4 separate regions of the Homo sapiens genome follow, and regions 2, 3 and 4 are each linked to region 1. Evidence: fine-mapped expression QTL. A gene starts in region 1. Each other region holds a variant in brackets. All regions are shown on one strand. Distances are between the middles of the regions. Region 1 holds the start of RASSF5 (Ras association domain family member 5). Region 2 overlaps RASSF5 (Ras association domain family member 5). Region 3 overlaps RASSF5 (Ras association domain family member 5). Region 4 overlaps EIF2D (eukaryotic translation initiation factor 2D).

The links.
Region 2: its variant is fine-mapped to the expression of RASSF5 in thyroid (GTEx, PIP 0.92).
Region 3: its variant is fine-mapped to the expression of RASSF5 in monocytes after R848 (Quach 2016, PIP 0.93).
Region 4: its variant is fine-mapped to the expression of RASSF5 in blood mononuclear cells (TOPMed, PIP 0.94).

The regions. Positions count from the first base shown.
Region 1 is chr1:206,504,439-206,512,253 of GRCh38, reverse strand. RASSF5 (Ras association domain family member 5) reads right to left here and starts at 4,723. Exons shown (of 6, transcript NM_182663.4): 1 at 4,195-4,723. The coding sequence starts at 4,651. LOC124904493 (a long non-coding RNA gene) reads left to right here and starts at 4,847. Exons shown (of 2, transcript XR_007066830.1): 1 at 4,847-5,388; 2 at 7,134-7,815. RefSeq lists silencers at 4,318-4,407, 4,448-4,807, 5,058-5,107 and enhancers at 7,705-7,754, 7,785-7,815.
Region 2 is chr1:206,537,848-206,545,662 of GRCh38, reverse strand. RASSF5 (Ras association domain family member 5) reads right to left here. Exons shown (of 6, transcript NM_182663.4): 2 at 7,370-7,491. Among named protein-coding and RNA genes, the nearest start is that of RASSF5, 34 kb to the right of the region's middle. RefSeq lists enhancers at 389-931, 749-988, 932-1,476. The variant C/T (reference allele first, on the strand shown) is at 3,276.
Region 3 is chr1:206,574,611-206,582,425 of GRCh38, reverse strand. The region is part of intron 2 of RASSF5 (Ras association domain family member 5); the gene reads right to left. It also overlaps a transcript of EIF2D not described here. Among named protein-coding and RNA genes, the nearest start is that of EIF2D, 34 kb to the left of the region's middle. RefSeq lists an enhancer at 6,519-6,568. The variant C/G (reference allele first, on the strand shown) is at 4,224.
Region 4 is chr1:206,595,216-206,603,030 of GRCh38, reverse strand. It overlaps EIF2D (eukaryotic translation initiation factor 2D), which reads left to right. Exons shown (of 15, transcript NM_006893.3): 6 at 1-80; 7 at 578-695; 8 at 2,723-2,768; 9 at 3,195-3,298; 10 at 3,419-3,568; 11 at 3,939-4,028; 12 at 5,836-5,931; 13 at 7,193-7,313. Among named protein-coding and RNA genes, the nearest start is that of EIF2D, 13 kb to the left of the region's middle. RefSeq lists an enhancer at 1-1,144. The variant G/TGG (reference allele first, on the strand shown) is at 4,395.

The DNA.
Region 1 (7,815 bases):
CTGGCCCCTAACGCACACATCCTCCAACAGGACCTTGCCCAAGAAGAAGATCCCAGTTAGAGCCAGGGGTAGGAGAGGGCTTGGGAGTGGGGGATTCTCACAATCTTTAACAACAAAATTTCCATTTCTGTGCTTCATTTTCTTAAACTCTAAAGCCAAACACGGGGCTAAATCAAGGAAAACACACGCTACACACTCAGTGCTGCTGGGTGCGCAAATACCTTCCAAGTGCCCAAGGTAAATAAATACAGAAGCCGCCAGAACAACACAGGATGATTTCTGAGAGGCCTGAAATGAAGACCTTTCTCTGCTACAGAAAGAATCAATGCCAATGTCCCAGGAGCCTTTTTCACAAAGAACCCACAAGCGGGGGATGGGTCTGCAGGATCGGGGGCTGTCACGCAGGCGGTTCCAGCTGTGCAGAAAGTGCAGAAAGTGGAGCTGAACCCAGCCAATAGCGTAGCAACAAGACTAGAGAGACCAGACTAGAGGCCCAGGGAGATATCAGCCATTCTTAATAAGAATAGTCCCGGTGCCCTTCCCCGAGGGCTGCATGGCAGGGCCTTGTAGTCACATCATTAAAATCTATCACAGAGTGGGGAGGTTAGTTGGCCTCCCTTTCAACCATGTAATTCCAATCACTTAACACTTCACAGCTCTGAATAACGCCCCCTCTGGAGAGAGACTCCGACTCCAGGAGCAGACAGGTGGCATTCACTGACAATGGCCAAGGTGTGTCTAAGCATCTCCAGGAGGGTTTGAGTCAGGCTTAGGTTTCTCCAAGTGCCAGACCATCCCCTGGTCCAGGATGGCTTACGCAGCCACCAAAATGAGATGAAAGGTAAAAGGCCACCTCCATGCGCCTTCTACAGAAGGAACACTAAGGGACGTCATCTGTAAGGGGAAGTCCCTGAGAATAAAGCCAAAGGGCAGCCAGTGAGTTTCTCTGGTTATTTGCTGTTGACCATTCCCTCCTAGAATGCTAGAAATGCATTCTCGCCATCACCATCACCCCTACCCCAAAACACACACATGGGCTCACAGGACCTTTCGTTCTCTCTCTGCCTTTCCACAGATCCCCACTGGATTTCCTTCTCTATCTCACAACTAGGAGTTCTTTAATCCTAGAAATTAATATTAACTCTGAACTTCCCTGTTCACAAATCCAGCATTAACCAGAGGTTGGTTACAGACCTTGAAGTGGGGTAAGCTTAGGTTAGATGAACTTTTGCTAAAAAGGCAGACAGTGGGAAGAGTGTTTTCCAAAATGCTTTCCTTACTAAAGTGCCCTTCTGCCAACATGGTTCCCACCCAGTGTCAGTCTCCTGGGCAGACAGATGTCACTCACATACCCACTGCCCTCCTGCTTGTTTCCAAGGGCTGGGATATTTAATAGCACAAACAAGCCATCACTTTCATCACTCACCACATAGTGAGACCCTGCTCTGGGCCTGGCACTCTGCTGGGTGCAAGAAACACAAAGACAAGGAGCCAATGGCTTCGTGGCCCCTATGCCAGGCAAAGAAGGGTCTCCTCAGCCACAGCAGGACATCAGGTAGGAGTGGCATTTCTAGAGGACACCTAATACCCAAATTTTCTGGGATGTCTATGGCAGTCACTTCCCCACTTAGCTCAGCAACCAGGCAGAGTTCGCAAATTGTACTCACTGCTTCGAAAGGTAATCCTAGGAGGTGTCACAAGCCCAGACTAGTTGTTACAGCTGTTAGATGGGAGGGGACAATAACAATCATATCGAATTAAACATTCGTATTGCATTTTGCTAGGCCCTGTTCTGAGTGCCTTATGTATATTAATCCATTTAATTCTCAGATTAACATGATGAAGTAGGTAATATCATTATCCTATTTTTTTTAAACAAAGAAGCAGAACACAGAGATGTCCAGGACTCACGTGGGGACTAAGTGGTAGTCAGGATTCAAACCCAGGGCTCTGGTTCCAGTCTGTACTCTTAACTACTGCATAGTATGATTTTTTTTAAAGTCCTATTTCTGACACTTGCTTTTCAAAATGAAGATAAAACAAAGCAACCTCACCATGGAATCAGACCTTCAACTTAAAGAAAGATGCTCAGCGAGTTTGGCCTGCTGTGTCTCCACCTGCCAGCCCTCATCTGCACATCAGAACATTTCTCAACTTTTGCCATCCAGCCATAGGTTCACAATTAGTTAAATATTAATCATGACAAACAGAGACTCCTTTCTGTAGCCCCTCGATTCCAGTTTTGCTTTCTCTCCAGTGTTCAGACATCGTTAGCATTAAACCAACTCTGTGGGGGACCATGAGCGCCCAGGAAAGTAAAAAGACCTCACCAAGTCACACACAAAGTCAGAGGTACTGCCCGGGGGCCTAGATCTTCCTGCCACTAGAAACGACGTATGACTTAATCAAAGGAGATCGACAATTCTGATGTGACGTAAGGATCAATTCATTTAGTCATGGAGTATCACACACAGGCACACGCAAATACACACAAACGCACCATTATCACCAAACCAAAAAAAAAAAAGAAAATCACAAAACTATGTGCAAAATCTTCAACAAGTGATACAGTCCCCCAAAGTCTAACTACAAACTAGAATGCCAACGAAGCAGATTTCCTGGGATTCCAGCTATGATAAAACCCATTTCAGTGAGGCTCCTGCCTCTCTCCCTGTGTGTAGGGTTGTTGGATGCAGTAAGGGAATCTTGAAAGTGCAAAAGCTGCCAACACATCCAAGGATAAGTTGCATTTGATTCTACTGTAGTCAAAGGCATTTACCAAGGGACAGCAGCCCCTCTACCCACAACATGTACCTCTACAAACCTTTACTCCTTCCTTCTTAATTAGCACCTGAACTGGGGGTTCTGGTGGAGGAAAGAGCAGCACCCACTTGCCCTTCCAATCTTTCCCTTCCACTTGACCCAGGCTTAGTGTCTGAGTTCTATTTCCCTGCAGCCAGCTGCAGCGGGCAGCACATTGAACAGCCTCCGCTGCAGACTGCAGGCAGAAAAAGGGTAGGGTTTTCCTGATGTGGAAATCACTGCTGCTGTCCAACGCTGCAGTTGGATGGGAGACGTGAGGCTGCTGCCATAGGGGAAGGGCCTTTGCTGAAAGATGCAAACCACAATCCATTTCCAGAGATGCTTGTTAGAGGCTGTGCCATTGTCTGTGCTTTGGGCTTCAGATATTTGAAATATCCATGTAAACACATGAACACATGGCTGTGGATATCCTCTGATAAACACGCAAGAGCAAATGCCGGGGTGGGGGTGGAGGGTGGACACCTATTAAAGGCATACACACCCCTAACTGTAGGAGGAGAAAAATAATAAACCCCCAAGGAGACTGAAGATTGGCTCAGAAAATCTATACACTGGGGGCCCAGTGTTTTCTGGCTTTGAGAAGCGCCTGGCTCAGGAGGTGACTGGAGGGGCCTGAGGGCTGTGGAGAGGAAGGGACCCTGTCAGGAGCTGAGTAATGTTAGAGCATGACGACTAGGGCAGGAACCCAGGAGGAGGAAGGGGAGGAGGCAGGGCACAGCCAAACATTGGAGCAGAGTCCAAAGGTTTGAGGGGCCAGAGGTGAAAGGCAGGAGGGGGCACGGGTTCAGGGTGACTTCAGGCTCTCTTCAGCCTCACAGCCTGCCTTTATCCAAAATCTAACAAGGTCTCCTCCCTGTCCCAATACGTCCCCCTGGAGGAGAGGTCTGAGCCTGTACCATGGGCGGACAAACAAGCGTTTTGTCAGTAACCCTAATAAGCAAGGGTCAAACGGTCATCTCAACAGCAGTCTCACAACCCACTCCCAAGAACTCACAACAAAACCATGAGGGTGCACAGGGAGATGACAGAGGCCGCCGAGGCCATCACCCACCCACCCCCCACAACCTGTGTGCGAGTGTGTGTGTGTGTGTGTGTGTGTGTGTGTGTGGAGGGCCAAGGCACGCACCTGTCAGGAGACAGGTATCTGTTAACTACCGCATAACCATACCTAGGTAGTGGGCAGGCACTAAAGGATACCGGGCAGGGAACTAAGGAGCGGACTGTCCCCAGGGGTTGTTATCTCCTTATGTTCGGGGCTCCCCTGGAGCCAAAGAGTGTAATGGCCCCTCTCTCCCTGCCCCAGGGCCCTCCCAGTCCTTCGCCCCCAGACTGCGGTCTCCCCGCACGCCCCTCCCCTGCCTTCACACTTACTAGTGCAGCGCAGCGCCTGCCGCAGCACCTCTCGTCCGCACAGGTCACACCAGCCGGGGCCGCCCGGCAGCACCAACTCGGCGAAGCAGTGCCCCTCGCCTCGCTCCGCCGGGACTCTGGGATCCTGCGGCTGCTCGAAGATGCTCCGCACGTCGCGGGGTCGGGGCGCTCCAGGCCGCCGCCGCAGTCTCTGCTGCAGACCAGGCCGGAGCGGGCGAGCGGGTCGGGAGGCCCGGGGCGGGGGCTCCAGGTTCCCCCGGGCAGCCCTCCGGGCGCTGCGCCCCTCGCGCGCCCCGGGCGCAGTGGAGAGGGGCGCCGGGACACAGAGGCGCGAGGACCGGTCGGGGGGCGGCGGCGGTAGCTCGGGGCCGCTCAGGCTCTGTAGATAGCGCGGCGGCTCGGGGTCCAATAGTAGCGGGTACGGGCGCTGCCCGATGGCCGGGGACGCCATGGCCATGCCCGGCTAGTGGCGGCAGCTTTGGCAGCGGCGGCTTTGGCGACTGCGCTACTCCCGAGCCAGCCCCGAGAGAAGGGGCCGCCCCACACCAGCGCGCCTTTAAAGGAACCGCAGCCTGCTGGGCGGGGCGGGGGCGGGGAGAGTCGGAGTGGCAGGAAGGACGACCCAAGAGAACCGCCGACGGACCGAAGGGGGTAGGGTCCGTGCCAGGCGACGTCTGCGCGAGTGTGGATTTGGGGGCGTCTTCACCTGGAGCAGCTGCAGGATTCCGCAGAGGAGCGCCTCTGTACAGTACAGCTCAGAGGGCGCATTTCTGCGGGGGGCCCTAGGCCTTCAGCCCTGCCTCTTTCCCTTGCCAATCACTTTCCCCAACACCAGGTTCACCCCCGACCCGCACCCTCACGCGCCCCGGGAGGGAGCAGGTCGGAGGGAAAAGCTTGGGAACTGGCTCGATGGGGTCTGAGTAGGGCCCCTCCGTCTAGGCGTCCGCTCGCCACTCTCCCGCTGATGGTGCCGACAGGAGGGCCGTGCTCCTTGGCCCTTCCTCTCTCCGGCTTGTCGCCGCCCGCCGCCCCCTCTAGAGCGGAGCTCGACGCGGGTCCGGAATGCCCCGCGCGCGCTCCCGCAGCCGCGCTTTGTCCCGTGGGTGACCGCCGGATGCCTCCAAGGGCTGGCAGAGCTGTCCGCGTGCGACTTTCGCTCTGGTTGGATTTCCCCTTCCTTCGCAGCCCTGCCGGGTAGGGTATTCCTCTTTCCTGGAAGACTGGTGGGGGGTGGAGGGGAGTTGGGGGGGCTCCATTGAGAGAACGCTCCCTCGCCCCAAGGGTTGGGGGAGCTTTTCTTCCTTAGCCAACCCTCCGTTCCCCAGAGCTGCTCTAGTAATTACTGTGGAGATACCAGTTCCCCTAAATGCCCTAAGTGGAACCTGGTATGGATGGTTCACTCATGGGACCCAAAGAGAGATCTCCTTTCTCCCGGCACTTTCCCCCGTGAAGGCTTGCTTCAAGCCTTCATGGACCCTTGTCTGGTTTAACGCTCTGCGGTCACCATCTTGAAAGTCTTACTTTTTGAACAAAGGGCCAGGCGTTTTCTTTTTGCACTGGTTCCCACAAATTATGTAGTTGTTCCTGACAGGCACCTTTGCCCATGGAAACAGGCCCATCTTATGGATAAGGAGGACTCCTGGATCTCTGAACCTGGGCCTGGGCCCTGGCCCTCTCTAGCCCCAGTATTGTTAACTGTACATTGGGCTGGAGGTGGGGAGACAGGTGGTTGTTAACGTGGCACTCTCCAGCTCCGTCATTATGACTCAGTGATCACAGCTTTCCTCTTAAAACACAGGTTCGGTTTGGTCCGTCTAGCGGTGGTCATTTTTTAGAAGAATAGTCTAAATTCTTCTGGACCTGGTCTCTCCCTTCTCTTCCCAGGCCAGAGATGGGTCTCCCCCTAGTGCTTCGTAGGGGAATCTTCACTTTTGCTTTTTGTTTTTCCCTTGGAGGTAATTTTTAGGTAATTCCTAAGATTTCCAGAGTCCAGTGGCCAGGGAATTCCCAGCCAGCTTTGCTCCATGGCTTCTCCCTCACGGTAATCATAGTCCTCTGCCTCCCAAATCTGTAGCAGAAGAGAGGTTCCTGGGGCTCTGGGGGCTCACCAGAGGCGGGAGCTCACCCTATGAGGTGGTTTCTGAGGAATGACCCATGGGACAGTCAACCCCACAGTGCTACCAAACAGAGGAGCTCCGATGAGGGGTGTAAGCCACAGGCCACCGCCTCTGCCCCACCCCTCCTCTACCTTTCCTCTTCCCTCTCCTAACCTTGCTTTTGCTACATCAGTGGTTTTCAAACCTTGGTATGCATCACAGTCATCTGGAGGGCTTGTTAAGATTATTGGGCTTCATCCCCAAAGTTTCAGAATCTATAGGTCTGGGGCTGGGGTTTGAGATGGCTCATTTTGAGCAAGTTCCCAGGTGTTGATGCTATTGATCCAGGGACCCAACTTGGAAAACCATTGCTCTAGGTCTGAGGTGGTGATTCTGAGAATGGGCTTCTCTGTTCCTTCTCCCCAGGACAAGTGTACTTCAGTGGACCTGACAGATAAAAGCCCAATGAGGGCTATTCCTGAATACTTTCTGCTGAAGGTGTAAAAGGGAAAATACAATTTGCCCTTGTGGTCTCTTATTTTAATCTCCCACTTTTTCTGCAAGCAGTTCTCTTGGGGTTGTTGCAGAAATCTGTATTCCATATAAATATTTGCTGTGTCCACACTCTGTTACCCATCTCCACACACTTGAGACTCATCCCCTTCCTGGAGTGCAGTGGGTGGGTGAGGTCCTGGGCATGGAAACAGCTTGAGCTCTGAGTGACAGCCTGGTGGGGCAAGAAGCAGCAGGGATCTGACAACAAGTGCATCCCTGGAAGATCGGCTTTGAAAAGCCATTTGTGAAATAATTGCTAACAGTCTCCATCTCTGTCCTTCCCTGCAGCCTCAAAGCATGGTTTGGGCAGCCCAGCCCAGATTTCCTGGATAGAGAGACTCATGAGGAGGAGCGTCATCTCTGGCCACGGGAAACTGAGGGCTATCTGAAACCATCAGGCATAAAACTCTTCCCCAGTTGTCTGGGCTGTACAGAAAAATGCTCTAGTTTTTGTTTTCCTCCTGCAGCTCTGATTTGGTGGAGTGGCAGTGGCTGCTCTTAGCATGAATGTGGGAGGAGATTGTGCAGGGCCAGAGCCCTATATTTGGCTTCTGGGGTGGGAAAAGAGATGAAAATGGAGATATTAATCATATAACTCCATGTAACCAATCAAAAAATTTATCATAAAGTTTATCTTAAAGTTCATCTCCTTGAGCCAAGAAATTAGAGTTGGGGCGGGCAGTTGCCCTTCTTAACCTCAATGTGAGGCTCCCTGGCTGGGGCATGTCTCCTCTGATGCCAGTTTTCCCAGCCCAGTCCCCTTCTTCCTTGAAATAGCATTTCCCCACCAACCCACGACACACACATAGACTTCTTTCTTGCTCCCATGCACACACACACACACACACACACACACACACACCCCACATGAACAGCAGAGTATTCCTTCTTCCCCAGGGAAGAAGTGCTAAAGAAACTCTAGTCTCATTATAAGCTCAGGACATTGCTGGGGTAGTGTCAGATGCCTGGA
Region 2 (7,815 bases), 33 kb before region 1:
CAATTAACTAAGCAGACATAATAATCCTAAAAGTATCCCATGTGGTGACTTGTGCCTGTGATCCTAGCACTTTAGGAGGATCGCTTGAGGCCAGGGGTTCAAGATCAGCCTGGGCAACAGAGCAAGACCCCATCTCTATAAAAAAACTCAAAAAATATTCAGGCATGGTGGCACACACCTGTAGTACCAGCTACTTGGGAGGCTGAGGCTGGAGGATCACTTGAGCCCAGGAGTTCAAGGTTACAATGAGCACCACTACACTCCAGCCTGGGTGAAAAGAGTGAGACCCTGTCTGTTAAAAAAAAAAAAAAAAAAAACACAAGAAATTCCTAAAAGTTTATGCACCTAATAATGGAGCTTCAAAATACAGGCATATTAACTGTAAAGAGAAATACACAAATCCACAATTATAGTTGGAGATTTCAACACTTCTTTCAATAATAAATGAAATGAGTAGACAGAACACAGGTATGCCTCAAAAAATGTCAGCTACTGTTGTTATCAGTCACAGTTCAATTAACATGTGTTGAAGCTTCCAGAAGGGACCCAAGACCCTGCACTTCCTGAGAGATGTGCAGGTAGGTCTATCAAGTGTGTTAGGGAGCCCGGGGCCTCAGGAAAGGACACATCCCCCCACCCCCAGCACCTGCCCTTTTAGGCGCATTTCTTCTTGCTCTCTGGCTCCCCCACGTGGTCATCCTGGGTTCAACACGTGGCTGTTGGGCTGAGGGACAAGGCAGGACTGGCCGCAGGAGCTTTTTTTTTTTTCTCAAGGGTCTGGAAAGGTAGAGACCGCGTTAATGCAGACAGTGGCATGTCTGCAGGAGGGAGCAAAGGACTGGGAGCCAGGAAGCACAGAACTCCAAGCCAGCGGAGTCACTACTCTGCTGCAGGGGCTGAGGGGTGATTGCAGCAGGGGCCCTGCTAAGGCTTGACAGTGTTTGGGGTTGGGGGTGTAGGCAGAAAGGCAGCAGGGACCTGCAAGGCTGAAATGCTGGCTGGCCGGCTGATCTATCCTGGAACCCTGGAAGCCATCTGCTCCTTTGGTGAGTGGGGACAGGGACTCATCCACAGGGTGGAATAGTGACTTGGGGCCTCAACAATAGTCATAAACCTTATAGCAAAAAATGTCCACCCAAACCACAAAGCCAGAGAGTCCTGGTTTTATATCCAGGACAACAACCCTACTTTCTGGTGTTTTGGAGAGTTGGCAGAGCCAGACCATAAGGGTTGTGTGTGCTAATCCAGATTTAGACTCATTCTGAGGGCAATGGGAAGCCACTGAGGGCTTTCATCACAGGAGTTACACAGTTAAAAAATCTACATCTAGCAAGACTGTTAGAGGTACCAGAGATGGCCCAGGACTGCCACCTAGAATACTCATGCTTTTGTCCACTCATGCTTTCACACACCTCTTCTCGCTGGAGCCTCACAGGGTCCCATTTCTCAGAAGAGAAACCTGAGACTCAAAGAAACTAAGAGGCTTGTCCTGGCTCATATGTCAAGTATTTCGTCTACACAATCTGGATTAGAACCTAGCTATTCAGTCACCCAGGCCAAGGGTCTGTGTTTTAAGAAAACATTTACTGCCTTTTAATAATATGACATTAGGGCCAGGTGCAGTGGCTTACACCTGTAATCCCAGCACTTTGGGTGGCCGAGTCAGGCGGATCACAAGGTCAGGAGATCAATACCAGCCTGGCCAACATGGTGAAACCCTGTGTCTACTTAAAATACAAAAATTAGCCTGGCATGGTGGTGCACGCCTGTAATCCCAGCTACTCAGGAGGCTGAAGCAGGAGAATTTCTTGAACCCAGGAGGCGGAGGTTGCAGTGAGCACAGATTGCACCACTGTACTCCAGCCTAGTGACAGAGCAAGACTCAATATAAAAAATAAAAATAAAAAATGACATTAGGAACATATGAAAAGCATTTGGCTATTCAAACAACACAGAAACAAAGGGCAAAAGGTGAGAGCCTCACTCTACCCCTTTCAACGTCCACCCCCTTCCAGGGTGAAATCTCTTTCAGTAGTTAGCTGAGCACTACCAGGCCCTCGTTCTGCATTTACACACACACACACACACACACACACATACACACACACGTGTATATATACATGCAAAATACAAATGGCCTGGTCCTATGTGTACCGTGGAGGGACCTGCATTCATGCTGCACAATTCCGTATCAGTATATACAGATCCAAGTGTCCTTTGGAAGAGCACCTTGGTATTGGTAAGAACAGCTGGCAATTCCTTCTCAGCATCCCAGGAGCTCTCTCCACTGCTCACACTGCCCCTTAGGCACTCCCTGGACCCAGTGCCCTGGTAGTCCAGGCACCAGATGGCCAAAGAGAGTGGCCTCGATAGGGCAGCATCTCCCACAAATGACACCTGAAAGGACTTTAGAACAGTGCGTGGATTTTTTTTTTTTTTTTAGTCAAGGTCTCACTCTGCTGCCCAGATGGGAGTACAGTGGCATGTGGCATGATCATAGCTCACTGTAGCCTCCTTCTCCTCAGTTCAAGCTGTCCTCCTACCTCAGCCTCCCAAGTAGCTAGCACTACAGATGCACACCACCACCACACCTGGCCAATGTTTTTAATTTTTAGTAGAGACAAGGCCTTGCTATGTTGCCCAGGCTGGTCTCAAACTCCTGGGCTTAAGCAATCCTCCTGCCTTGACCTCACAAAGTGCTGACATTATAGGTGTGAGCCACTGTGCCTGGCTAGTGCCTGGCTTAATAAATATTTGTGGAGTAAATTTGAGGCAGTCCTTAGACACATATTAAAAGAAATTATAAGTATTCATTTAATGTGTGCTGAGAAAAAATTCCTAAGTACATCAAACCAGTGATTCGAGGATATTTTAAAATTTCCTTTAATGTAAGTTTATTTAAATTTAATAAAATAAGTCTATTTAAAGAGAAATGTTAAGTAAATAGTAGACAGGTGGAACATGAGCAGGGCCTGAGTCCTGAGTGGGGAAAGTGCCTGAGTGTGGTCTGGGAACGGCCATGGGAGGGGCTGGCCTTTGCAGCTGAGGGCCTGGGAGCCTGGTTTCCGAGGTTGCTGCCCAGGAACTGTCTTAGTCCATTTTGTGTTGCTATATAGGAATACCTGAGGCTGGGTAATTTATAAAGAGAAAAGGTTTATTTGGCTTGGGGTTCTTCAGGCTGTACAAGCATTACACCAGCATCTGCTTGGCTTCTGGGGAGGCCTCAGGAAGCTTTTACTCATGGTAGAAGGGGAAGGGGGAGCAGGCGTGTCACA[C/T]TCGAGAGAGACAGCAAAAAAGAGATGCTAGGGTTGTCTTAAACAACCAGCTCTTGTGTGAACTAATAGAGCGAGAGCTCATTCATTATTGCAGGACAGCACCAAGTCATTCATGAGGGATCCACCCCCATGACCCAAACACCTCCCAACAGTCCCACCTCCAACATTGGAGGCCACACATCAACATGAGATTTGGAGGGGACACACATCCAAACCATATCAGGGACTCTAGAGGGTCAGGAGGAAGGGGTAGGACTCTGGGCCTGCTGGCATAAAATTTGAGCACTGGCTGCAAGGGATTGGAGTAGAAGGAATAGTGCTTATGTTTCTCTCTTGCAATCTGTGCATTCCATGTACCAAGAAAAGCGGCACCCAAGGCCAAAGGGACAGAGCTGCCGGGGTTGCCCTGGGCCGCAGTGGGTGATAATGAGAATCCAGTGGTGGGCAAGGACAAAGACTTCTTCTCTTGGGGCCAGCTTCTCCATAGGCAGCGAAAGGACTGAACCAAGCCATCAGAGGCCTCACTTCATCGTGAGGGCACCAGGAGCCACTGAGGGCTTTTTTCCTCCCAGGGGTGACAGGATAAGAGCACCGTTAAGACCACCAGAAGTATAAATTCTTTGGGGTATAATCCTAAATAGAAGAACTGCAGCTGTTTGGGTAACTGATTGTGGTCTTTAGCCAATAGCGATGATGTTCCTTAGCAAATGAGGCTTAAACTGAAAAAGGGGTCTAGGGTAGACTTGAAGGAGATTTGCTTGGTCACGCATGGGTGCCCAAGGAAAAGTCAGATATCAGAGACCTCAGAGATCTTTAAGGAGAAACTCCAAAACCCTCATTTCTGTGGTTGACAAAAGCACAGACAGCTCCCAGCGGCCTTCCTCGGTTTCTGATGCCTGTTTCCGATGACCTTTTGAGTTTGCCACTGGGGATTCTGAGCTCATTCCTGCCCGCTTCCACACCTGTCCCTCCTTCCTCCCCAGCTGCCTCCCTGTGGCATGGCAGAGACAAGACAGAACCTTGGGATTGTTGCTTTTGAAATGTTGAGGCCAAATGCTTATCTACAGGATGATCTCAATCATGTTTTGAAAAATGTATGAATGTTCAGGAAGAACATATAAAAATGTTAATAAAGAATGGTTCTCTCTGGATGGAGGAAAATAAATGATTTTCTTTCCTTAAAGAGCAGAGAGGGCCGGGCGCAGTGGCTCACACCTGTAATCCCAGCATTTTGGGAGGCCAAGGCGGGTGGATCATTTGAGGTCAGGAGTTCGAGACCAGCCTGGCCAACATGGTGAAACCTCAACTCTACTGAAAATACAAAAATTAGCCAGGCATGGTGGAGCACACTTGTAATCTCAGCTACTCAGAAGGCTGAGTGAGGCAGAATTGCTGGAACCCAGGAGGTGGAGGTTGCAGTGAGCTGAGATCATGCCACTGCACTCCAGCTTAGGCAACAGAGTGAGACTCTGTCTCAGGAAAAAAAAATATATATCAGAGAGGAGAAATGCCACTGAGACGAGACCCCCCTAAGCCATATATACCCGGAAGTAGCTGAGCTCAGATCTGAGCCCCTGCTCCCTTAAATCCCCCAAGAAAACAGCACTAGCACATGAAGTTAGCTCAGCCCAGGTCGATGATGTCAAGGTGAAAGAAAGCTCCATCTTGAGATTTAACAGAAAATCAAGCCAAGGCGGAAATGAGCACAAACAGGCTTTTTAGAAGAGGCAAGTGGGCCTGGAGCAGGGCCCAGGTTTTATTGATAGAGGGCTGGGTCCTGCCCCAGTTCTGCTGAAGCATGCAGGCAGGCCTGTCCAAGGCAAATACAGCAGCAGCCTGATCTGGCCAGCCCAGGAGCAAACCCCATGCCAGGCTGTTTGCCCACTGGGGGCGGTTCAGCTCCCACGCGGGGTTCTTGGCTCCTTCCTCTGCAATGTTTCAGTGGTGTTTCTGCTCTAGACAAGCCCTGATTTCACTTGCCAGAGGGTTCCAAGGTTGACTCCTCTCTCCAGCAGAGGAAAGGGGGTCACTCTGTTTCCAAAAACTCAGACATGAAAGCATCTCTTCACTGCTGACATTTGGAGGATGAGACAACGAATCCAGCCAACTCCAGGCCTTCCCTGGGCCTTTTGCCTGCCACACTTGGGAGCTGGCTAGCCCACTCTAGGGCAGGGTTTCTCAGTCTTCGCCCAACTGACATTTGAGGTCAGATAATTCTTTGTTGTGGGGGGCTGTTCTATGCAAAACAGGCCGGCTAGCAGCATTCCTGGCCTCTTCTAGAATCAGTAGCATCCTCTAAGTTGTGACAACCAAAAATGTCTCCAGACAAATGTCCTAGGGGGTGAGTAAAATTGCCGCCTTTTGAGACCTGCTGCTCTAAAGGAAGGAACAGAAAGAGACACAAAGAGGAGACCCAGGAAGTAATGGGGACAGCCAGGCTCCAGGGTGGCGTGCAGGGCTGAGGAGATCAGAAAGAAGAGACACTTGGAAGCTCCCAAAGAGAAAAGCAAATTGAGACCAGAAAAGGTTGTTTCAATAAGATTTTTAGGAAATGTTGCTATATGGTGTACTATGTAACCTCCTCCCTCTATCTTCTGAGGAAAACCTTCAGGAAACATCTGCATTGCCCATCAGCACTTTTGGGGGCCAGATGTGCCTCCTCTCCTTTCCCTGTGTCCCATCCTGGGTAGACAGTTCCTGCTAAGGGTAAGGCCCTTCCAAGAGGCTACATTCAGGCTACACCAGAAATAGTTACTATTCCAACGTCTGTGGAGCGATGTGCAGAGTTTTAAAATATACATTTTAGAACTAATCCAGCATCACCCTTATAAAAACATATATCATTCTTGCTTTCTAATAATTCTTTTTCCAGGGAGAGAGAAAGGCGTGAGGGAACAGCTGGGAGGCTGGTAACACCCATGGTGAATTAGGCATTTGAACACTGTTGATTGTGTTCCAGAAAAAGCATGTGATGGCTACTCTGGAGACCGGGGGGCTGCTCGTGAGTCTCCCATCCAGCACCTGGGTCCCCCAGTATAGTTTCTCAGAGCACCTTGAGATTTTCCGTCAGAGACACAGGATATATTTGTTTAAAGTCTCACTCCCTTACCCTACTGTAAGCACCGGATGTGTAGAAACCATGTCTGTAATTTTCATCATTAAATCCTCAGCATTCCTGGGCCTGGCACATGGTGAACACTCGAAACTTATTTGTTAAATGAATTAAAGGATGATATTCTTACTTCCCTGACTCGCAACCTTCAACCCACACATTAAGGCTTAAATCAAACATCACCTCCTCTGGGAAGCCTTCCCTGATTTCTCCCAGCAGAAACAATTGCACTATATATCCAAACACTTGGTTCATACTTTTATTGCAAAATGCATCACAGTGTATGCTATTTGTTGGTATTCTGCCTCCCCTGCCAGAATGCAAGCTGTCTGAGGACAAGAATTGTGACGTAGCATTTATTACCCCAACTCTCACCCATGCTTGGTACACAGTAGATACTCAACAAATGCTTGTTCAATGCAAGAAGCAATAAACACACTCCTCTGTCTCCATTCTAAATCCTAGAAATAAAAGTTCAGATACATCACAGTTCAAGTGTCTTTACAAAACCCAGAACCAAAAGCTGCTTTGGACATCAATTTTCTGGTTCTTTAACACAGGGAGAGAACATTTGCCCAGCCTCTCTGAAGGTTGGGCTGGCCTGGCTGGACAATGTGCTTGAGATGCCTCAGCCCCAGCATCCCCACTGTCCCAGGGCTATGAGGCCTTTAGGGACCGTCAGAAGGCTTCTCTGGAAGCCACCCCACTGCTCACTCATACCCACATCTCTGGCTCAGAGCCCTAAGCCACAATAGGCTCTGTACTTGGGGAGAACTACAGGGGACTTCTGAGTATCTTCAGAGTTCTCTGTGTCACTTCCCCTAGTCCCCTTGGAACAGGGTGTCTGTGAACTCCATCCAGTGCATGTGGAATCTGAGGCCTCATGCCACCTCCTGCTCACCAGAGCTCCTGGGAGAGAAAGTGGAGCCCGGGGCACCTGCAGAGGCTGTTCCCAGCTTGGTACGAGAGCTTTGGCACCTACCTGGCTGAAGGTCACGGTGAGGGTGCTTTCTGGAGAGGGTCTGTCCCGGGATAAACCCTCCTGCTGACTGCAGTCCAACTGGATCAGGCTGCGGCATTCTGGGTGACAGGTGAATTTACAGTCTGGAGGTAAAGAACAAAAGGGAGATTAGAGGACAGGCAGGATTCCTCCCCACTTTCACCCAGAGAAATAACCTTGGAGATTGCATTAGTTCCCAGTGGGAAGAGCAGTGCAGGAGAGAAGTGGTGGGGCGGGAGACAGCGTGAGAATGCCACCCTGCTCTCGGATCCCCCAGGAAGGATGCAAGTTAAGTGCTCTACGCGTTTGCAAACTGCTTTCACCTGCATTACTTTGTGTGACTCTGCAATCATTATTATTTCCATTTTACAGATAGAAAATCAGTGCCTAGAGACTGAGTGACTTTCTCAAGGTCAGAACTTCTGCCT
Region 3 (7,815 bases), 70 kb before region 1:
CCTCACACCCTACAGTCAGTATGTACAGAATGAAACAGAAATTCCAGGTCTGTCCCATTGTGTTCCTCCTGTGAGACCATGTGTTCATTCTTCTCATATGTTCCCAGATGCCCTCCTCCTCCCACCCCCTGGGAAGGATAAGTGAACAATGAAATTGAGGAGATTGAGGTCAATGGCCCTCACCTTGTAGAGACAATACAGGGGTGAATTCTGGGGTCGAAGCCACTGTCCCTCAGTCAGTTCTCTGGCTCTCTCTCAAGTTCACTGTTACCCACCTCCCGGTTTTATCTTCACACTGTCCCTGAGTGGCTGGGAGTGTGGGAACTGGTTGGTCAGAACCCACCCAGAATTTGCCTGACGTTCAAGTGTAGCAGACTTGGGGTGGATCAGGATTCTCCTTTGGTAAATGAGGAAACTGAGGCCCAGTGAGGGATGACTCTGACACCATCTGACACTGTCCTGTGGGTGTCTGGGTTTGGCTGGGGAATTTCACAGCTGCCGCGACGTCACATCACCACCCCGCGGAACACAACAGGGCCCCCCCTCCGTGACAGAGCTTTGCCCTACCTTCCTCCCTTCAGCAAGCCATGTGGGAGACACGCCACCCTGAACAACCTGCCATCACTTCCTTCCACTTTCCAATCCCACAGAACCGATGCAATGTCAGGCTCTGGCTGCCAAGAGGAGCTGGCGTGGCTCCAGCCTCCCACCTCCAACCCCTCAGCACAGCTGACATCCTCCTTTCTTTCTTTCCTTCCTTCCTTCCTTTTCTTTCTCTCTCTCTCTCTCCCCCCTCTCTCTCTGTCTCTCTCTCTTTCTTTCTTTCTTTTCTTTCGTCTCCCTCTGTCACCCAGGCTGGAATGCAGTGGCACGATCTTGGCTGACTGCAATCTCTGCCTCCCAGGTTCAAGCAATTCTCCTGCCTCAGCCTCCCAAGTAGCTGGGATTACAGGTGCGCACCACCACACCCAGCTAATTTTTGTATTTTTTAGTAGAGACGGGATTTCACCATATTGGCCAGGCTGATGTCGAACTCCTGACCTCAAATGATCCATCCGCCTTGGCCTCCCAAAGTGCTGGCATTACAGGTGTGAGCCACCGCACCCAGCTTCTGACATCCTCTTTCCATCATGGCATCGTTCCCTGGCCTGTCTGCTCCCGCTGTACTCTCCCCAAGGGGTCCTGACCTATTAATAACAGCCTGTGCTGGGTACTTTCACATACCTTCTCTTACATACTATGTATGTCATTCTTATTTCACAGATAACAAAACTGAGGCTGAGTTTAAGAAACATGCCTGTGGTCCCCTGCTAGTAAGAAGCTAAGTAGGAACTGGAATCAAATCCATCTAAGGCCCATGCTCTTCTCAATTCACCATGTAGCCACCATGGGACGGCATCTTTTGCTGAAGGGGCCGGCCTGCCACACCCATAATGATCACTGAAACTCTGTGCTGCGGGGCTGGGATGAGCAGCTGTTAAACCAAAGCCTGTAAGTTACCTGATCTGTGAAATGTTCATCTAAGATGAGTCTAAGCAGCGGGTCAGGCCCCAGAGGCACCATGTCACCTGTGAAGGTGGGAAGGAAGGACTTCTAACTCAAGTGAGATGCAGCCACCAGGATGCAGGGCCCAGCCTTCTCCTGTGTGCCTTCCCAGGTCTCTGGAACTGAACCTTGATTCTGTTGCAGACCACCCAAGGGCAAGCAGCTCTGGCCATCTCCCACTTGCCGGAGGTGAGTAGCAAGTAGTGTGAGCCTCACAGACTCTCTTCATTCACTGTCAGTCCATTAACCCGGGGACTCTCACAGTGAAGCCTCTCATTTTCCTCATCCCTTCCCTTGGGTAGCTCCCAGAGCTCCCCATCCTCAGTCCTTGCCAGCTGAGCACATGTCTATGGGACCAGATGTGCCTGACCCTGGCCCTACCCCTATACCTTCCCGCTGGGAGCTTCTAATTAGAAAGACCCCGTTGTCTGGTTACTATTATACACTCACTCTGTCTCTGACGCATGTAGGCTATTGCTCCTCAGGAGGTAATAGCTTTCTCATACTTGTCTATAAAAAATAAGTAATGGAAAGAAAATTCTAGAAGCTTCGGAAAGATCTCCTCTCATAGTTTCCAATCAAGCTAGAGCCATTTCCCCGTAAGAAAAGGCAGCTGTGCTGTGGCTTTCAAAGGCTTGATTTTGAATACAGTGAGAAGCAAAGCTGCCTTAGCCTAGGGTTTCTTCTTCCTGTTCCCCTTTCTTCAGCAGATAGACCCATCTATCTCTCCCCTTCCCACCACAAACGCGGGGAAGTGACGCAAGTGGCCACAGGCACCTCTGCCTTCCAGGGCTGACTCAAAAGACAGCAGCCCTGACCTCACCATTCTGAGGCCTGGCCCTCTGGCTGGTGATGGGAAGCCCTGTCTGGGAGTGCCAGGAGCCCCGTGTGTAGCCAACACTACGAATGTCACAGCCATGGAATGCCAGCACCCAGGTCTGGGATGGCTGCTGCCCACAAAAATATCTGGCAGACAAGATGTGACCCATGGACCAAATGAATCACCTCCTGAATTAGGCCAGCCAGCCACAGCCACGAGGGCTCACGGATCCTTTTTCCACCCAAGAGATGGCGTATAATCCAGACCAGTGGTTCTTAAACTTGTCTGCACAGTGCAATCATCTGGGGGATCTTTAGAAACTTAGCTGCCTGGGCTTCATCCCTGGAGATTCTGATTTAATTGGTCTGGGGTGCAGTCTGGGCATGGGAATTTTAAAAATCTCCTAGTTGATTTTAATTCGCAGCAACATTCGAAAAGAACTGAAATAGACAGACCCCTCACAACAATTCCAGACCTCAAGGGTCTTCATCCAGCTGCTGAATTAACACTTGGTGCCAAGAAACACACAAACACCCCAAAGGTTTACCTAACAGGCACTATCTGCCATGAGAGCGAGATCGATACTATAGCAATCTTCAGAGGATAAGACAAAGACTCTGATTCCTATTCACCTGCCAGATTCTTAAGGATCTGTCCACGGGTACAAAGCGAGAAACCAAGCAGACAGTTTTGCCTCTTGGGGTGGCCCAAGATAGAGACAGAATAGGGAACTCTGTTATGATTTAACAAATATAGACATTGGCATGTGAGGTGTCTCTCCTGGGGGCTCACACATCTCAGTGCATCTGGCATGGAATTCATCTATTCCGATTAAGCCCCTGGCATTGGTGGCAGATGGCTGAGCTGTTCCCAATGCACTTGGCATGTCCAGGGCACTGGTGAAAAACAGGTTTGTGCTCACATGTCCTATGCGGTGGAAAAGGGCAATGTCTTCTTTTAGCTCTGGAGGTGATTGGGGAACAGCCATGTAAAGAGGCTGGGTGCTAGGGGTTCACAGCGACACCCCGACCCTGAGTGATTCTCTAATGCTTCCATTTAAATATTCTTAACAAAATAAGGAGGACCATACCCCTTTCGTCTGGGGCCTAACTCAGGGCAGATTTGCCCTAAGCTGTTTTTCTTTATTTTATCACTAAAGCAACAGCAACAAAACCCTACTTCTGCACTCTAATCAATGACATATGTAATCTTAATTTTGGTGACTGGAGAGTGACCTAATGCCCTAAGGAGAGGCTCTGAGTGAGTCACGTGGCTTCTGGTATTCCCAGGTGGGCCCAGGGCACCCAGGAATGCTGTGGCAATGAGAGGGGGTCCCCAGGATGAGGGTGGGCTGAGGAGGACGTGTGTCCCACCGGCAGTACTGCAGCTATTATATACATCCGTGCCTACTTTTTCTTGACCAAAATCACAAACCTAATTTTTGCTAAAAAATTCACTCTCACTCTTTTTAAATTTGTCAGTCTTTCCTCCTTCTGGCCCACGATTTGAATCATCTCACACCTGTTTGCCCATCAGAAGTCACTTTATTTGTCAAGCTCTTCCTGATCACTCCAGCCCTGAATGATGACGATGATTCACTACAGCTAATATGTACCGTGCACTATTCTACTCACTTAGCATGTATTAGCTCATTTCATCATCACAGCAAATGTGTCACAAAAAATACTATTATGATGCTCATTTTACAGTCAAGGAAAGTGAGCCACAGGAAGGTTAAAGCTAACCTACATCTAAAGGCAACACTATACTATCTGGCACTTAAGTAAGCATCTACTTACACACACACACACACACACACACACACACTTTTTTTTTTTGAGATGTCTCCCTCTGTCAC[C/G]CAGTCGAGAGTGCACTGGTGCAATCACAACTCACTGCAGCCTCGACCTCCTAGGCTCAAGCAATCCTCCTGCCTCAGCCTCCCATGTAGCTGGGACTACAAGCATGTGCCACACTCCTGGCTAATTTTTTTTATTTTTTTGTAGAAATGAGGTGCCTTGCTATGTTGCCCAGGCTGGTCTCAAACTCCTGGCCTCAAGCAATACTCTCACTTCAGCCTCACGAAGTGCCAGGATTACAGGTGTGACCCACCGCGCCTGGCTGCTTACATTAACCTCCAAGTAGACTCATCCATCTCAGGTCTTCTTCCCAACTAGACTAAAGCTCTTTAATGACTTACATCATACTTCAATTTGTTCTCTGTGCCTGGTGCCTCTGAGCATGAGGCAAATAGGAAATACTTGCTCAAGAACCTTCAATGATCCCCTATTGCCTACAGTGGACAAAAAAGGTCTTAATTTCTTCTAGGAATTACAGTGCAGTGAGCCTTGGATTTCCATTTAGACTGAGTTCTGTGAGAGAAGCACCCACGCCTGTCTTGTCCTCTATGGTGTCCCAGATCCCAGTGCCAGCTTGACACATAGTAGGGGTTAAGTACCTGCAGGATGAACACAAGTGTGTGTTGGGCTTCTGACTCCCATGACTAACTACATGATCTTGAGAAAGTCAGATAATCTCTAAGCCTCAGTTTCTTCATCTATACATTTGGGATAAAAATCCCTTATTGTCTCACAGGATTGATGTGAAGGTAAAAATCAAATGAGATAATGGGTACAAAAGTGTTCTGAAAATCACCAAACCCATTCAAAGGCATGTATGGTGACTATCATCCCAGGAAAGCAAAGTTCTACCCCTCTGAGCCAATTTCAGTTTTCATTTTCCTTGAGTCCTTCTTCTGATTGGCCACATGCCCATAGAGTTTGTTAATTCCTTTCTCTGCACCAGTGGTTGGCAAACTTTTTCTGTAAAGGGTCAGACAGTAAATGTTAGGTTTTGCAGGCCACGCAGTCTGTTGCCACTATTCAACTCTACTATTGTGGCACAAAAGCAGCTACTGGATGAGTGTGACTGGGTTCCAGTAAAACTATTTATGGGCCTGGCATGGTGGCTCACACCTACAATCCCAGCACTTTGAGAGGCCAAGGCAGGATGATCGCTTGAGCCCAGGAGTTCGAGACCAGTCTGGGCAACATAGTGAGACCCTGTCTCTACAAAAAAAAAAAAATACAAAAATTAGCTGGGCACAGTGAAGTGCACCTGTAGTGCCAGCTACTCAGGAGGCTGAGGTGGGAGAATGACCTGAGCCCCCAGGAGTTCAAGGCTGCAGTGAGCCGTGATTGTGCCACTGCACTCCAGCCTAGGTGACAGAGCAAGACCCTGTCTCAAAAACAAAACAAACTTTATTTATGGAACCTGGCCATGTGCAGTAGTTTGCTCTATGCTGTTGTTTGTGCAGAGTCTCCTGCCTAGAACACTATTAGCCCTAGTTCCACCTTCTCTATGTAGTTTCCCAATGCAATTTCTCCAGTCTATAGCCATCTCTCCATCCTCTGCTCTCTTAATGTACCAGATCCCTGGCATTTTGATTCCCACATGGAGAAAGGTAATCACAGTTTTGTCCTGGTCTCTCTTTCTCCTGAATCATACTTCCTATGTTTCCTGTGTATTTCCTCACACCACCAGTTAATGGGCCTTTGTAACTTCACTCTCATTTCATGGACACTTTTCACAAGAAGACAAAGGCTTGGGCACTTCCTTGGATTTTGCTCACTTTACTCCATTCTGCAATGAGGAGGCAACAAAGCTGGCTGGGGTAGGGATGGAGGTAGACAGCTAGGCTCACCCCCTGGTTCTGTGACTCGCTCCCAAACACCAGCCCCATGGCCTCAAAGCCTCAGATTCCCATTGCAGCAAAAGTACAAATTACCATCGTCACAGATCTCTGCAGCTGCTGGCTAATGTTAAATCCATACTGCAAGAGCCTATAGAGGTGATTTCAGAGCCTGTGTGGCTACAGCTGGCATCTAATTATATGCTGCCTTTTATTGTTTAATGATTGTTTCACATGTTAATCCCATCTCCCCAGTGAGATGCTCTCTGGATGGAGGCAGACATTAGTTTGGTGCCTAAGCTTTTTGGCACCCCGCTTGGCTGAAACCTGGGCCAAACTTTAAGTAGGTGTCAGATAAATACCTGTTGATTGGGTGGCAGGGGAGGGCAAGACAGCCTGGGGAGTCTCAGGCCAGAGCCCACCCCAGACCCCTAGGTCCAGGAGCACCTCACACTCAGCTGCACCCTGAGGGTCTGATACCAAGAACACACACCAGGCTTTGGACTTTGGCGTTAGCCGTGTGGCTCAGCTCTTGGCAGCTAGCTGATGAGAACAAATGCAAGACCATCAAATGACCTGTGACGTCTGGGGAGCTACTTCCCCTCTCAGGGCCTCAGTTTCCTTATCTGTGAAATCATGAAGTGATACTGGAGAAGCTCTAAGGGCCCCTTCGCAGGACTAAGATTTTACACATAAGATAGGGTGGTGTTTTTTTCTCATCATTGCTTCCTCTTCTATTTCAGAGAATTGGGTGTGGAGATGGGGGCCTCTTGGAGGCTAGCTAGCATGGCTGAATGGCAGCAGGAATAACCAATCTAAAGGAGCACAAAGAACATTTCTAACCGCCACGACTTTACTTTTTCACTGCTCACCACTTTTCTCTATTGTCAGCAAGACTCTATCTTAGCCAAGCCCAAGCCGGTCTACGCATTCTTAACACACACAACTCAAGAAAACAAAACAAAAAATACCCCGGAAGCCATTCACCATGAGCCTTTGCCACATTTCCTCTTTCTCAGCTCTTAGCAAATCTGTCAGCAGCAATTCTTTCACCCCTTGGAAGGAAGCCATCTCCAGGCTTAAGTCAGGGAGGAAAGCCTCAGGCCCCTCCTACAGGAGAATGTCCATCTGCAGCTGCCTTCCACACCCCAAACACCCGGTGCTTCTGTTGTGCTTGCCCTAGATGGGAACGTCTGCAGGCAAGGGGCAGACACCCATCTATCTGGGCTGGATTTGAAATACCCTGCTCAATGTCCAAACCGCATTCAAAGGTGAGGTTAGGAGTTCAAGACCAGCCTGGGCAACATAATGAAACCCTGTCTCTTCTAAAAAAAAAAACAAAAACAAAAACAAAAAAATTATCCGTGCGCCTGTAATCCCAACTACTCGGGAGGCTAAGGCGGAAGAATCGCTTGAACCTGGGAGGCAGAGGTTGCATTGAGCCAAGATTGCGCCACTGCACTCCAGCCTGGATGACAGAGCGAGACTCCATCTCAAAAAAAAAAAAAAAAAAAAAAAAGTCATTGGTCCCTTTGTGATGGTCTCAACCAAATGAGAAAGAGGAATCCCTATGGGGCCTTACTGCAGGGCCCCCTCCCAGGTCTTCGAAGGCCTGTGTTCTGAAATGGACTCCACAGACCCACCACAGCAGTGAAGGGGTTGATTTCCACAGGTCCCTCTATGGCACTGTCCATTGTCCCAAAATTAAAAGGGTTGGGAACTCCTTAACTGTGTTCCCTAATAGGTTATTTGCAGCAGAGCA
Region 4 (7,815 bases), 91 kb before region 1:
CAAGTCTCTCTCAGAAGCCCCAGAAGACACCAGCACCAGGGGCCTGAACCAAGACTCCACAGATAGCAAAACGCTTCAAGGTATAACTCTAGGAGGAGAAGAGCCCATCTCCCCACCTCTCAATTTAGGAGCCTGACGAACTCCACTCCACTGCTGACTAGAATGGCCCTTAAGCTTCCGGGGGAGGAGGGGAAGGTCCTTATTTTCTGTGAGGGTGGCGCAGCAGCCCTTTCACATCTTGTTTTTGAATCCTTTCCACATAAGTCACGTCTTCCTGGGAGCTAATCTGCCCTGGCATTTGCCTGTCTTCAGCTACAAAGCCCTCCAAGGTTTCTTCTGGCTCAACTTCTCTGGGTGAACACTCCTAGCTTGGTGGGACTTTGTGGCTTGACTCCTTCTCTGGGGTCAACCCTCTTTAAAGGCTCAGTGCTCAAGAGAGGCTGGGAGCTTTGGTACCTGGGAATGGGTTCCTTTCAGAGCCAAGTGGGTGAGGTAGGGATGAAGCTGGGGGTCGTTTTCTTGTACCAGGTGTTCTGTATCCCTCAGGAAGGATGTGGCTCTTGTCTTTTCCCTGCAGAACAAATGGATGAGCTGTTACAGCAATGCTTCTTACATGCCTTGAAGTGCCGAGTCAAAAAGGCTGACCTCCCTTTACTCACCAGCACTTTCCTTGGCAGCCACATGTTCTCCTGCTGGTATGGAAAGCACTGATGTGGGCTGGAGGCCGGGGCCGGGGTCTCACGTGTGCTCCTTGGTAGTAGGACAGGATGGGGCCAATGCAGGGACTGGTTGAGGGACATGCTGTGGAAAGAGTGGAGGGAAGGCTTATCTGACAAATACATTAGTTCCTGGGTTCTAAAAAGTTAATTCTTAGCTTGCTGGGCTGTTAAAACAAAATCTTAAATTTTAGCCAATGAAAGGATATTGAGGACCGGAAAGTTAAAATTCCTGAGATTCTGTGAACACTGCCTCTGCCGTGGGGGTTCTGGGCAACCTCACAAATCGGGCAGCGTGTCCTCTGCAGGAAGTGTCCCAGGGCAGCCTCTTTGTCAGGAATCTTCTTCTGGAACATTCAACCTCCTCACACTTCTGAAAAGTATGTGGGGGGCCACATTAGGTTTTATTAGGAGGAAGAATTGGTGTGAACACCCCCCGTCCCGGCCCACCCCATCCAAAACACAAGCCATCAGGAGTGGTATTATTGCGTGTGGATAGAACCTGGATTTTGAAGACAGAGCTGTCTGTACTCAACTGCTAGGTCTCCAGGGTGTTCAAGCAATGTGCATTTTAGCTTGTTACTGGGCTTCTCTGAGTCCTAATTTCTAATAATCATGGGATTGCTGTAAAGATTACATAGCCTGAACCATAATAAGCATTCAGTAAATACTATCATGTCAGGAGGTTTGCTTATTGATTTTTACCCTGAGATTGAATTTATTTATTTATTTATTTTTTGTTTTGAGACACAGTTTCACTCTGTCACCCAGGCTGGAGTACAGTGGCGTGATCTCGGCTCACTGCAACCCCTGCCTCCCAGGTTCAAGAGATTCTCCTGCCTCAGCCTTCCCGAGTAGCTGGGATTACAGGCACATGCCACCATGTGCAGCTAATTTTTGTATTTTTAGTAAAGATGGGGTATCACCATGTTGCCCAGGCTGGTTTTGAACTCCTAACCTCAAGTGATCCGCCTGCCTCGGCCTCCCGTAGTGCTGGGATTACAGGCGTGAGCCACTGTGTCCGGCCTGAATTTATTTCTTTTTGAGAATCTGGCTGTGGTTTTTTAAAAAAGTGATTCTTAATGTAATGTCTTCCCATTTATACTTGGGTGTCTTTAAGCTATCCTGTACAAATGTGGTGTCTGGAGTGTGTGGAGGGATACTTGGTAATCTGTTCTGACTTTCTTGGGTTGCAAATATATGGTAAAGGGGCCCCAGAATATTCTGTAGGATAGGATTCTGGGGTGGATTCTAGAAGGACTCCTCGAGAATCCACTGCTATTGCGTGTCATGTTTTGAGAGAAGATGTAAGCTTTTATCAGGAATGTTCTCTCCAAAACTAATTGCTGTAGTGCAGGGGTCAGCATGTTTTTCTGTAAAGGGCCAGATAGTAAATATGAATATTTTCAGTTTTGCAGGCCACACCATCTCTGTTGCAACTGCTCGATGCTGCCATTGTAGCACTAATGTGACCATAGACAGTAGATAATTAGTTGGCCAGACCTGACCCCAGGATGCGGCTTGCTGGGCCCCACTCCAGGCCTGGCTGCCCACAGTGTGAGTTTGCTGTTGCAACTTTGGAGGCCACAGAAGGTTGTCTGGTCTGGGAGGAATCTAAGGCTGTATCCAATGTGGTAGCCACTGGCCACATGTCGCTATTTTCAGTTTAAATTAATTTAAAGTAAATAAAATTTAAAATTCAGTTCCCTTGGTCACATTAGTCACACTTCAAGTACTTACTACCCACATGTGGCTAATGGCTGCCCTGTTAGACAACACAGAGAACATTCCACGTCTATGGAAAGTTCTCTTGAACAGCACTGATTTAGAATGTCCCATAGTCTGCATCCCTCTCTGCTGTCATCCCTGGGCAGAGAGTTCTGGCACAGTGGCCTCTCTCTGAAGGTGGGGGAGGAAGGCTGAGGAAAAAGGCCCTCCTCTCAGTGTCAGGCAGGTCCCAGTATGACTGCTCATTAGTTTAATTTGCCTTTTCCATCTGCCATCAGCCCCGAAGGACGACAACTGGACATAAAGAAGTCAAGCTACAAAAAGGTAAGCAAGGATCTTCTTTGCAGACCCATGCAGAGAGTTGTGTAGGGGCACATATGACATAAGCCAGATGGATGCTGGGGAAGCCTTGTCTACCAGGCTCAGTCTAGAATTAAGCTTTTTGACTCCAAGTATAAGGGGGAAGAAAGAAACTCTCCCTGGGCTGAAGCAGTTGGTGGCACCCACTTTCCTTTCTCCTTTGACCCCTTTATATCTGATTAGAGTTCTGAACGGCCTCACTGGTTAGTCTCTAGCAGCTTCTTGCTCCCTGGCCCTCAGGTTGGGGGCCTCCCAGTTCCTGGTTGATGAAGGCAGGGGCTGTCTCATATCCCTGCACAGTCCCTGCCTAGCTCACTCTGGCACATCCTGGGTGCTCAGTATGTGTGTGGAATCAATGAAGTCCCCTACCACTGGCCCTCTCTCCCTTAGCTCTCTAAGTTCCTGCAGCAAATGCAGCAGGAGCAGATTATACAGGTGAAGGAGCTGAGCAAAGGGGTGGAGAGCATTGTGGCTGTGGACTGGAAACACCCGAGGTGAGTGCAGGGGGCCTGTCACTGTAGCCCAGCTGGCCCCAGGGCACCTGGGCCACGGACTGGGGATTGCTGAGATGCTAGTATAAAATGTGTTTTTTCTTTCCTTCTGCTGGGTTTTAGGATTACATCTTTCGTCATACCCGAGCCCTCCCCGACCTCCCAGACTATCCAGGAGGGTAGCAGGGAACAGCCCTATCACCCTCCAGATATAAAACCCCTCTACTGTGTCCCAGCCAGCATGACCCTGCTCTTCCAGGAGTCTGGCCACAAGTGAGTTTTTGGAGAGCAGCCCTTCTCTGCCTGCTTGGTGTTCTGGCCTACAGTTCCTCTCAACCTGAGTAGTGCTCTTTTGCGACTGGCAAAACCTGCTCTGCCCCTGTTCTCCCCTTCTCCAAAATCCAGCTTCCAGCCTTCTTCCCTGGGCAAGTTCCTCTGGACTAAATGAACGAGTAGGTCTCACCCTTTTCTGCGTGTAATTATTCTTCACATGGTCATGCTCACTTCAGTCAGGAAAAGGGAAGAAACTAGAGGCCGAAAGCTAAGGAAAGTTCCCTGCTCAGCAGGGAGTGAGTCTGGGCATCTGCATTTTTGTCTCATGGCACAGCATGAACTAACCCCTGGGTCACTTCTCCTCACCTAGGAAGGGGAGCTTTCTGGAGGGCAGTGAGGTCCGAACGATCGTCATTAACTACGCCAAGAAAAATGACCTGGTTGATGCAGACAACAAAAAGTGAGTGCATGAGAAGCACCAGATCTGTCTTATTGGGTCTTTGTCTTTATCAGACATAGACACATTTGGGGAGGATGTCTGGGAGGGAGAATAGAAAACCATAGCATCTTAGAGGTAATTAAGATCAGTGGTTTCCAAACCATGGGCTGTGGACACTCAGTTATTGTCTGGGGTGTTCAGATCCATGTATACGATCAACATTGACTACCGACTAAGTAAATATTCTCTCACAAATACCCATGAATCATCTTTAATTGGCTATTGTGAGGAATAAAATGCAAGCTTACAAAGAATTTACTGAAGTCATCATAGCTTTAGGTATTTATTTTTATTGATAGATATTTGTACATATTTATGGGGTGCATG[G/TGG]TATTTTGTTACATGCACAGAGTGTATAACGATCAAGGCAGGGTATTTGGGGTATCATCACCTTGAGTATTTACCATTTCTATGTGTCGGGAACACTGTAAGTCCTCTTTTCTAGCTATTTTGACATACACAATACATTGTTGTTAACTACAGTCACCTTACTCTGCTCTCAAAGACTAAACTTATTTCTTCTATCTAACTGTATATTTGTACCCATTATGGTATTATTTTCTTAAAAGGAGATACAGATGGTAAACTACCAGATGAAGAGAGTTCCATTAATTGTTTTTTACTTTAATGGCCGGACACTGTGGCTTATGTCTGTAATCCCAACATTTTTGTAGGTTGAGGTGGGAGGATTGCTTGAGGCCAGGGGTTTGAGACCCACCTGAGCAGCATGATGAAACCCTGTCGCTACAAAAAATACAAAAATTAGCCGGGCATGGTAGGGCATGCCTGTAGTCTCAGCCACTTGGGAGGTTGAGGTGGGAGGATCGCTTGAGCCCAAGAGGTTGAGGCTGCAGTGAGCAATGATGATGCCACTGCACTGCAACCTGGGTGATACAGTGAAACCCCATCTCAAAAAAAAATTTTTTTTTCACTTTAAAAAAACATCATCATGATAAAAAAGTTGAGACATACCAGCCTAATCTAATACCTTCATTTTATTTTATGTTTTATTTTTATTTTTGAGACAGAGTTTTGCTCTTGTTGCCCAGGCTGGAGTGCAATGGTACAATCTGTGCTCACTGCAACCTCTGCCTCCCAGGTTCAAGCGATTCTCCTGCCTCAGCCTCCCAAGTAGCTGGAATTACAGGGATGCGCCACCATGCCCGGCTAATTTTTGTATTTTTAGTAGAGACGGGGTTTCACCATGTTGGCCAGGCTAGTCTTGAACTCCTGACCTCAAGTGATCCACCCATCTCGGCGTCCCAAAGTGCTGGGATTACAGGCGTGGGCCACTGCGCCCGGCCCTATTTTTAGTAGAGATGGGGTTTTACCATGTTGGCCAGGCTGGTCTTGAACTTTTGACCTCAGGTGATCCTCCCGCCTCAGCCTCCCAAAGTGCTGGGATTACAGGCGTGAGCCACTGCACCTGGCCAACACCTTCATTTTAAAGATCCCCACTTCCTTTCTTTCTTCCTCACTAGCCAATTTTGATGCTAAGCTTAGAAAGCTGTGGTCACATGCTTAGTTAGTAGCAAAGGCTCCTGATCTTCAAATTTATCCCATCTCACTTTCCCTTCCACCTCCTGCTTTTCCTAGGAAAGCATTCGTGTATCTCCCACCCATAAGGTACATTGCCTTTTGGACTGTGGGCCCATAATTGATTCATATCCTGAATGTCTATAAAGGCCGTACGAGAGATGAATCCTGAATTAGCCTTCAGGTCAGAAGGGACAAGTCTAGGATTTCTTCATTGCCTCTTCTTTCCCTTTAGTCTTGTGAGATTGGATCCCATCCTATGTGACTGCATCTTAGAGAAAAATGAACAGCATACAGTCATGAAGCTTCCATGGGACAGTCTTCTGACCAGGTAACGAGCATTGGCAGTCCCTCTCCAACTTTTCTATCCCCTCGCCTTAATGTTGATCACATTGAACTTTAATACTGTCACTATCTTAGCCTTTGATTTTCTTTCTGTAATTCATACCAAGTCAGTCTACATAAACACAGGCTTGAGGAACTCTGATTTGGGGGGTCTTTGGAACAATTTGAGCCAATATGACATGGGAGAGCTTGAAAGGAAGAACAAAAAGGAACATTAATTAAAAATAAGAACTTCAGGCAGGCATAGTGGTGCATGCCTGTAGTCCCAGCACTTTGGGAGGCGGAGGCGGTAGGATTGCTTGGGCCCAGGAGGTGGAGGCTGCATTGAGCCATTTTCATGTCACTGCACCCCAGCCTGGGTGACAAGGTGAGACCCTGTCTCAAAAAAAGAACTTACTCTGTTAAAGTGAGGGCATTTAAAAAAATAAGAAAAAATAAAATAAAACTTCAATAAGATGCAGAAGCAAAAGAAGGCTGGGGAAAAGTGTCTTAAAGTCTTTAAAGGAAAAATTTTTAATATTCCTTCTTTTCCACATAACTGAAAATAGTTTATTGTCAGGAGTCAGCAAACTACAGCCCATGGGTCAAATCTGGCCTGCCACCTGTTTTTGTAAATAAAGTTTTGTTGGAACACAACCATATCCATTTATGTGTTGTCTGTGCGCTGGTTTTATGCTATAATGGCAGAACTGAGTAGTTGTAAGAGACCAGGTGACTGGCAAAACCAAAAATATTTACTGTCTAGCCCTTTATAGAAAAAGTTGTTGATCCTGATATATGTGATAGCAAGAGAAAACTTGGTTAGATAAAAGGTAGAAACTCCTCGTGGTAAAAGTTCTCTATAAAACATGTCAGAAATGTGAAGCAGCACTCGCAGGCAATGGGCCACTTAAGGCACATTCTTGAGACAGGTAGTAGCCTCCACAGGGCAGACTGGGCAGATTCTCAAAAGGCCAGGTCAGTGGACCGTTTCCAGGGGCCTAAGTCACTGATGTTCCCATCTTTGAATCAGTGGGTGTCTACCTTGGCCGCATTTTAGGGAGCTTTAAAAAATACATAGCCCTAGTCAGAGATACAGATTTCATTGATCTGGGCTGTAGCTCCCTAGGGATTTGAATGATTCTAATGTGCAGCCAAGGTTGTGGACCTGCAATTTCAGCCTACACCTAACTGCCTGCTGGTAGTGGGGTATGAGGAAATGGTTTCTGTTGGCTTTATCAGTTTGCAACTCATAACTTCTGTTTCAGGTGTTTGGAAAAATTACAGCCTGCCTATCAAGTGACCCTTCCCGGACAAGAGCCCATTGTGAAGAAAGGGAGAATCTGTCCAATTGACATCACCCTAGCACAAAGAGCGTCTAATAAAAAGGTAATTTTAGAAAGACACAATGTTCAAGGATAGTGATTTAATGTTCTTGCCAAGTTCTGGTCTCCCTAATGTGATTGGAGGTTTTTAGATTGGCCTCAAACTCATCAAAGATTTTTTTATGAAACACCCGTGTTTATGTGCCTGGGCTGGGCTCTGTATGAAACAGGTAAAGCTGACCCCGCTCACTCACTGCCCTCTAGGATTTTGTTCTAGGAAACTTGCTAGAGCCTGGTTCCAAAAGTAAACAAGATTGTATTTTCATTTTTTTCTTAGAACTATGTTATGGACATTCAGCTCCCACATATTCTTTCACCTCTTAGGCCTTGCTCAATGAAAATAACTTGTAAAAAACTTGCTGAAGGAACTGAGTGTGTTTAGCTTGGCAACACAAAATTGTGGGGAACCAATGACATCTCTCCTCAAATATGTGCAAAGCTGTCCCCTGGCAAAGTAGGGCACTTATTCTATATGCCTTGAAAGGACAGAAATAGGATTATTGGGT